Linked DNA regions of Homo sapiens. The gene in region 2 interacts genetically with the main gene of each other region. Each region holds a gene or a part of one and is shown on either strand. Other genes may lie near its edges. The genes, in order: SREBF2 and ATAD3A.

Region 1 (3,811 bases), on a different chromosome or scaffold from region 2:
CATGCATCCGCAGGCCTGCCCCCTGCCTCCCACCAGCCTCCCAGGGCTGGGCCCCCCTCCTCCCCTGGCTGTCCTGTGTAATAAAGGGAAAAACAATGAGCAGGCTCAGTCAGGCCCAGGGGAGGGAACGCAGACCCAGGGAGAGAATCAAGACGCTACAGCAACTCAGCCTCGCATCATGGCAAACCCAAGCACACTGGTAGAAAACATTCGTATAAAAAGGGGAGGGCATGCTGGGCACAGGCCTGAGGGCAACTGCTCCCTGGTGCTCAGAGACTGCTGTCCCCCAGAGAAAGCCTGATAAAAACTGAGGAAGCAAAAAGGAGAGAGTAGGGTTCAGGAGAGAGAAACTCAGGAAGGCTGGAGGCAGGGGCTTGGCAGCTTGGGAGCTCCCCCTGCTGCTATCAAGTCAGGGCTGCCCAGTTTCTGCCCTGCCACCTATCCTCTCACGCCCACCAGGCCCTGGACCATGGGCATCTAGTGACAGCAGCTTTAAGGGGCTCTGCCCAGGGGTGCACTGGCCTGAGTGGCCCAGAAGCCTCGGCAGGTGACAGCTAAGAAGACAAGGCTCTTCCCCACCACTCTCAGCGGGAAGATGCTGAGGGGGAGAGAGAGAAATCGAGAGAGAGGTGGAGGGGTGGGCTGAGCCTGGTGGTCAGGAGGCGGCAATGGCAGTGCCACCACCCAGCTTAACAATCATCTGCTGGCAGTCGTTGCAGGAGCGCCGGTCGCCCACCTTCTCCAGGGTGCGGGCAGCTTCGGCCAGCAGCACTGCCCGCTGGCCCGGGGAGGAGAGGAAGGAGAGGGGCAGGTGGCGGCAGGCCAGCAGGATGGCGGTGGCCCGCTCTCGCTGGCCGGGCCAGGCATCCACCTCTCCTGTGGGAAGGAGATGTGTGTCACAACCGAGAATCTACCATGAAGTTGGTGCAGTTCCTTGGCGTTACCTGGACTCATTCACTGAACGCTCACATCCATCCTGGGAGGTGGGGTCTGCTGCCCCACCCAATCCACGGAAAAGAAGTGAACTTGTCCAGCCTCTCACGGCCAGCCCGTGGTGGGGCTGAGATGGGCCCACATGACCTGGCTCGAGCTTCTGCTTCTATGCCTGCACCTGTGCTGGGACGCCACCCCAACCCTCCTTCCCTGATCACAGCATGACCCATGACCACCCCAACCCCTGCAACCCACCAAGGGCGGCCTCGGGCTTCTTTCATTCTCAGAGAGGCGAGAGGTGTGCTGGGCACCAATGCCAGATGTGGGAGCTGGGCTGGCCCCTCTTCTCCTCTCTTCCTAGGGCGCAGGGCCTGGCCCAGCCTGTGAGCTGGGGAGGGGTGGACTCACCGTGCTTGGTGCTCTGCGTGGTGCGCCGCCGCAGGCTGTGTTCCAGCAGCTGGTGGGTGCGGGTGGGGCTGGCTCCTGCCATCAGGCGCACGGTGGCTTCATGCAGGAACACCTGGGGAGGTGCCGGGGTGACATCCATCACACCCCTGGTCCCCACCCATCTATGCCCAGGGTAGCTCTCCCTGAGCCATCTCGCCTGCCACCTCATGACATCCCTTCCCACACCACCCTGCCTTGCTCACCCCTGAAAAGCAACCTCTGTTGTCCCGTACTCTGACCCTGAGCCAGGCAGGAAACCTGGCTGAACAGCAGGAGCAGGATGAGAGGAGAGAGAGGCAAAAGGCCTGCTTTTCCCAACTGGTGACAAGAAAGCCCTGGACGCACCTCGTGGGGCTGGTAGACAAGTGCCCTGGGTGAAGCCCCAAGGCCCTGGAGGCTGCCTGCAGTTTGACAAAAGGACAGGTGTGACAGGGACAGAGGGGTGAGGAGGGACAGTTGGGCTGGTACCAGAGAGGTTTGGTATCCTCTTTCCGTATCTTTAGAAAGGAAGAGAGTCTAGAGGTGTGCGGGTAAAGTCTGCAGCGCTTAGGTATGAGCCACTGGTGGGTGAAGGGCAAGGCTGAGGTCTGTCATTTCTTAAAATCTCAAGCTCTTTTTGATGCCTTTATATCTCAGTCTTCAGGGAGGGTCTTCAGTGCTGCCAAGTGGATTCTGGTCCTGGTAGGCAATGGGGAGCCGCTGATGGGCTCTCAGCAGGGAGCAGCAGAATGGAAATGGTATTTAAGAGGAGGCCTTTGGACCAGGCGAGGTGGCTCACACCTGTAATCCCAGCACTTTGGGAGGCCGAGGCAGGAGGACAGCTTGAGGCTAGGGGTTTGAGACCAGCCTGGGCCACATAGCAAGACCCCATCTATTATGAAAAAAAGGCCACTGATGCCAGCCATGCTGTGAGCAGACCAGAGAGCTGACCAGAGTGGGCTCCAGGAGGCAGGGGTGCCGCTCCAGGCCTGGGGTACATGCCCTCTTCTCCACAGTAAGGAATGGCTCTCCGATGATACTGTCTGTTGTGTCTGTCTTGGCTTGCTGCACACAGTGGCCACAGTGCAACCCTGGGTGGGCCCCGCAGCACCTCAGGGTGATGGGTGTGGGGGCTGAATCCCAAGCTCCACGGCAGCAGCCTCGCTCTGAGGCCTTCTTCCAGCCCAGCCCGTGCCCCCTCAATGACACTTGAGTCATCTCACTCAAATTTTTAGAAAAAAATACAGGTACAAATATGTTGAATACATTATATAGCAATACAAATAAACAAAAAAGGAAATAGCTGGAGCCTGGCAAGCCCAGTCATAGAACTTTCCTCCGTGACTTAGTTCAGATCACGTGGCCACTGCCAAGGGGATGTTACCCAGCAGCAGAACCGAAGCCTCTAGCTACTGTGAAAAAGAATGAAAGTCAACGTGGAGCTCGGGACCAGGCCAGGAGCCCTGACTTGCCACCATTGCCCTCAGAGCCCTCCCACCCAGCATGTGCCTGGGGAGGCACAGCTCCCTGCTGGCCCCTGTCTGTGGCAGCAAAGTGTGGCCTGCTCCCTGCTGAGCTCCAGGGCCAGGCATACAGCAGGCACTCAACCAATGTGTGCTGAACACAGGGACACATGGCGCCTAGCCCAGTGTTGGGCACGAGCCAAGCAGGTGCTCGACAGGTCACCAGGCTGACCTCAGAGGGCCAACTCCACAACCACATGCTGGTGCCCATGCTGGGTTCTGGGCTCAGGCCCCACAGGCTCCAATCTGCCCTGCCCCACCAGCCAGCTGGGCCTCACCTTGCGGTATGCTGGGCGGAAGCTGTGTGCCAGCCTGCGCAGGCTGCCCAGGTCCCGTTGGAAGCCCGCCAGTTCAGCGCCTGACGCGTGGTAGGTCTCCCCCACAGCCTGGCTGGCACTGGCCTGTTTTTGCCAGAGCGCTGTCCGTAGCGACAGTAGCAGGTCACAGGTGAGCAGCTGGACCACCTGTGGGGTCAGCCACGAGAGAGGGGAGACAGGTGACTGGCCCATCCCTGAGGCAAGGATCCTAGCACCTACCAGGCCTCTCCCCAGACCAACACTCAGCAGCTCTGGGAGGAAGTGGAGAGCCCCAGAGTCTGGTGAACTCCGCAGGACGTGAGGGAACAGCTCAGGGGAGAACCAGTTCCTTCCATGGCCCCAGGAGGTGGGAGACAAGCCCTCCCCATTCTGCAGGTGAGAAAGCAAGGCTCTGACAGGGACAGCAGCTTGTATAGGGAATACAGCACAGGCAGGTGGCAGGGGCAGAAATAAAACCCTTGTGGGTTGAAGGCGCAGGTTCTTCCACCCCATGGGAGTCCCACCATGGCTGGCTAGGAGGCTGAGATACCCACAAGGTACCAAGGAAAAGCCTGAAGTGGCAGCAGAGCCTGTCGATGGGGCTGGGGGAAGGAGGAGGAGGAGTGGGAGAGG
Region 2 (3,323 bases):
CAGACGCTTTTGCTAGAAGTCGGGGCTCCGCCACTGCCAGCATAAAGGCCACCTGCCCTGCGGGTGCTGAGTGAGCAGCTGTGGGCAGGGCTGGTGTGAGGAGTGGTTGGGGCCATCTCCAGGCCCTGCAGCCACTCCCTGCTCAGTCCGGGCCTGGCCTGCAGCAGGGAGGATGTGGAGCTGGGCTGTCAGAAGTAGAGAGCCCCTCCAAAGAGGATGTTTGGCGTGGGTGTCGGCCTCGCTGCCTGTCTTCCGGCCTCCACCTCGTGTTGTGGGAGCTGCTGCCTTGGCCGGCCCACTTGGGAACTCCTTCCCCAGGCGCCTGAAGCTGGCCCAGTTTGACTACGGGAGGAAGTGCTCGGAGGTCGCTCGGCTGACGGAGGGCATGTCGGGCCGGGAGATCGCTCAGCTGGCCGTGTCCTGGCAGGTGAGTCAGGCTCCGGCACGTCCACCCAGACGGGACCCCAGCTGCTGTGGAGATGCTCAGTTGCGCCAGGCCTGTCCCAGCACCGGTGTCACGCGGGAGCTTCTGTTGAGGGGTTTTCAGTGCACAGAGGTGACACAGGGCCCCCTGCCCCAGTCAGGCCACTCCACGAGGCATCGCGCACCTGCTCGTGCCCTCAGGAGGGTGGAGCCATGTCGGTGGCTGACAGTCACCCGGGGCTCTCTGGAGGCCAGTCTGGCATCGCCGTAGCCCGAGCTTTGCCAGGTGGGGCTGGAGGCTTCTGACTCTCACCTTGGCCAATAGGCACCTCCCTGTGTAAATGGTCGTTAGGACAGGCCCCATGTGAGTTGGGGGTTCGGGGTGGAGGGACATTGTGTTTTCTGGACCAAGTCTGTGGGCTTGGTCCTGCTTGACACATGGGTGGGAGTGGCCTCTGGTTGTCCCACAGCCAGTTGTTCTTCGGGGACACCCCTCCTGCAGCTCCGTGGCTGCTCCAGGGCTGAGGAGCCAGGACTCACAGGAGTGTGGGCGTGGCCATCCAGAAAGCTTTGGTCTTTGGGGGTTGCTGGAAAAGCAAAACCAGGTTGGTGGGGCAGAAGGCACCCTGGCCACGCACAGGCATCACCACCTCTGGGGTCCGCAGAGTCTGTGTAACAACCTGGTTCCTCAATCTAGCAGTGCTTTTGAATGAACGTGTGACAGCTTAATGAAGCAGCCGAGTACCTTGATTTGAATGTTGGAGCCGGGGTTCACAGGGGGCTGTATTAGTCAGTACAGGCTGGGTTATGCCACTGTGACAAAGAGCCCCAGATCTCAAACCCCGTCCTTGTGGGTCAGCTGAGGTCTCTGTTCCAGGCCATCCCCACTTGGAACCAGGTCTGTTTCCACAACTAAGAAAGCAGAGGCCGGGTATGGTGGTGGCTGACGCTTGTATTCCCAGCATTTGGGGAGGCCAAGTTAGATTATTTGAAGCCAGGGGTTTAGGACCAGCCTGGAAAGCAAGGCAAGACCCCATCTCTACAAAAAATGAAAAAATTAGCTGGACCTGGTGGCACATGCCTGTAATGCCAGCTGCTTGGGAGGCTGAGGTGGGAGGATCACTTGAGTCCAGGAGGTGGAGGCTGCAGTGAGCTGTGATTGCCACTGCACTCCAGCCTGGATTACAGAGCAAGACCCTGTCTTAAAAACTAAGAATAATGGCCGGGCGCGGTGGCTCACGCCTGTAATCCCAGCACTTTGGGAGGCCGAGGCGGGCGGATCACGAGGTCAGGAGATCGAGACCATCCCGGCTAAAACGGTGAAACCCCGTCTCTACTAAAAATACAAAAAATTAGCCGGGCGTAGTGGCGGGCGCCTGTAGTCCCAGCTACTTGGGAGGCTGAGGCAGGAGAATGGCATGAACCCGGGAGGCGGAGCTTGCAGTGAGCCGAGATCCCGCCACTGCACTCCAGCCTGGGCGACAGAGCGAGACTCCGTCTCAAAAAAAAAAAAAAAAAAAAAAAAAAACTAAGAATAATTTGGAACGAGTGCGGTGGCTCACTCCTGTAATCCCAGCACGTTGGGAGGCTGAAGTGAGAATATCATACACCTGAGGTCAGGAGTTTGAGAGCAGCCTGGCCAACAAGGCCAATCTCACCTCCACTAAAAATACAAAAATTACCCCGGCACATTTGTGGTGTATGCCTGTAGTCCCAGCTACTCAGGAGGCTGAGCCAGGAGAATCTCTTGAATCCAGGAGGCGGAGGATGCGGTGAGCTGAGATGGTGCCACTGCCCTCCAGCCTGAGCAATAGCGTGAGACTCCATCTTAAAAAAATAGTAATAGGCCAGGTGCAGTGGCTCACACCTGTAATCCTAGCACTTTGGGAGGCCAAGGCGGGCAGATCACGAGGTCAAGAGATGGAGACCATCTGGCCAAATGGTGAAACCCCATCTCTACTAAAAATACAAAAATTAGCTGGGTGTGGTGGCGCATGCCTGTAATCCCAGCTACTTGGGAGAATGAGGCAGGAGAATCACTTGAACCCGGGAGGCGGAGGTTGCAAAGAGCCGAGATTGCACCACTGCACTCCAGCCTGGCAACACAGTGAGACTCCATCCCAAAAAACGAAAACGAAAACTAAAAATAATAATAACTGGGGCTGGACGGGCGCGGTGGCTCATGCCTGTAATCCCAGCACTTTGGGAGGCCGAGATGGGCGGATCATGAAGTCAGGAAATCAAGACCATCCTGGCTAACACGGTGGAACCCCATCTCTAATAAAAAATACAAAAAAAAAATTAGCCAGATGTGGTGGCGGGTGCCTGTAGTCCCAGCTACTTGGGAGGCTGAGGCAGGAGAATGGCATGAACCCGGGAGGCAGAGCTTGCAGTGAGCCGAGATCGCACCACTGCACTCCAGCCTGGGCGACAGAGCAAGACTCTGTCTCAAAAATAAAAAAATAAAAAATAAAATAATAATTTGGGCTGGGCACGGTGGCTCACACCTGTAACCACAGCACTTTGGGAGGCTGAGGCAGTGGATCTCCTTGAGTTCAGGTGATCTGCCCCCTTTGTCCTCCCAAAGTGCTGGGATTACAGGTGTGAGCCACCATGCACGGCATCTTGAATTCTTTTCTCATAAAAGGGTTTTGAATTTGGTCGAATGCTTTTCCTGCATCAGATGAGAGGGTCATGTAGTTTCCTTCCTCCACTCGGCTAATATTGATTGATTTTTGTATGTTGAACATTTTTTATGTGGAACATTGATTGATTTTTGTACGTTGAACTATCCTTGCATTCCAGGAATAAATCCTGCTTGGTCAGGGTGTATAATTTTTTTATTATACTCCTGAATTGGTTTTGCTGGCATTTTGTTGAGGACTTTTCCAACGATGCTT

What was found.
Region 1: changes in ATAD3A (region 2) and SREBF2 together harm fitness more than expected from each alone (negative genetic interaction), as found in Homo sapiens cells (one large-scale study listed by BioGRID).

Annotation. Positions count from the first base shown.
Region 1 is NC_000022.11:41,902,505-41,906,315, reverse strand, and holds part of SREBF2 (sterol regulatory element-binding protein 2), read right to left. Parts: intron 3,347-3,811; coding exon 3,161-3,346; intron 1,454-3,160; coding exon 1,342-1,453; intron 877-1,341; coding exon 656-876; 3' UTR 1-655.
Region 2 is NC_000001.11:1,528,905-1,532,227, forward strand, and holds part of ATAD3A (ATPase family AAA domain-containing protein 3A), read left to right. Parts: intron 1-318; coding exon 319-427; intron 428-3,323. UniProt on the Homo sapiens protein: Essential for mitochondrial network organization, mitochondrial metabolism and cell growth at organism and cellular level. May play an important role in mitochondrial protein synthesis. May also participate in mitochondrial DNA replication.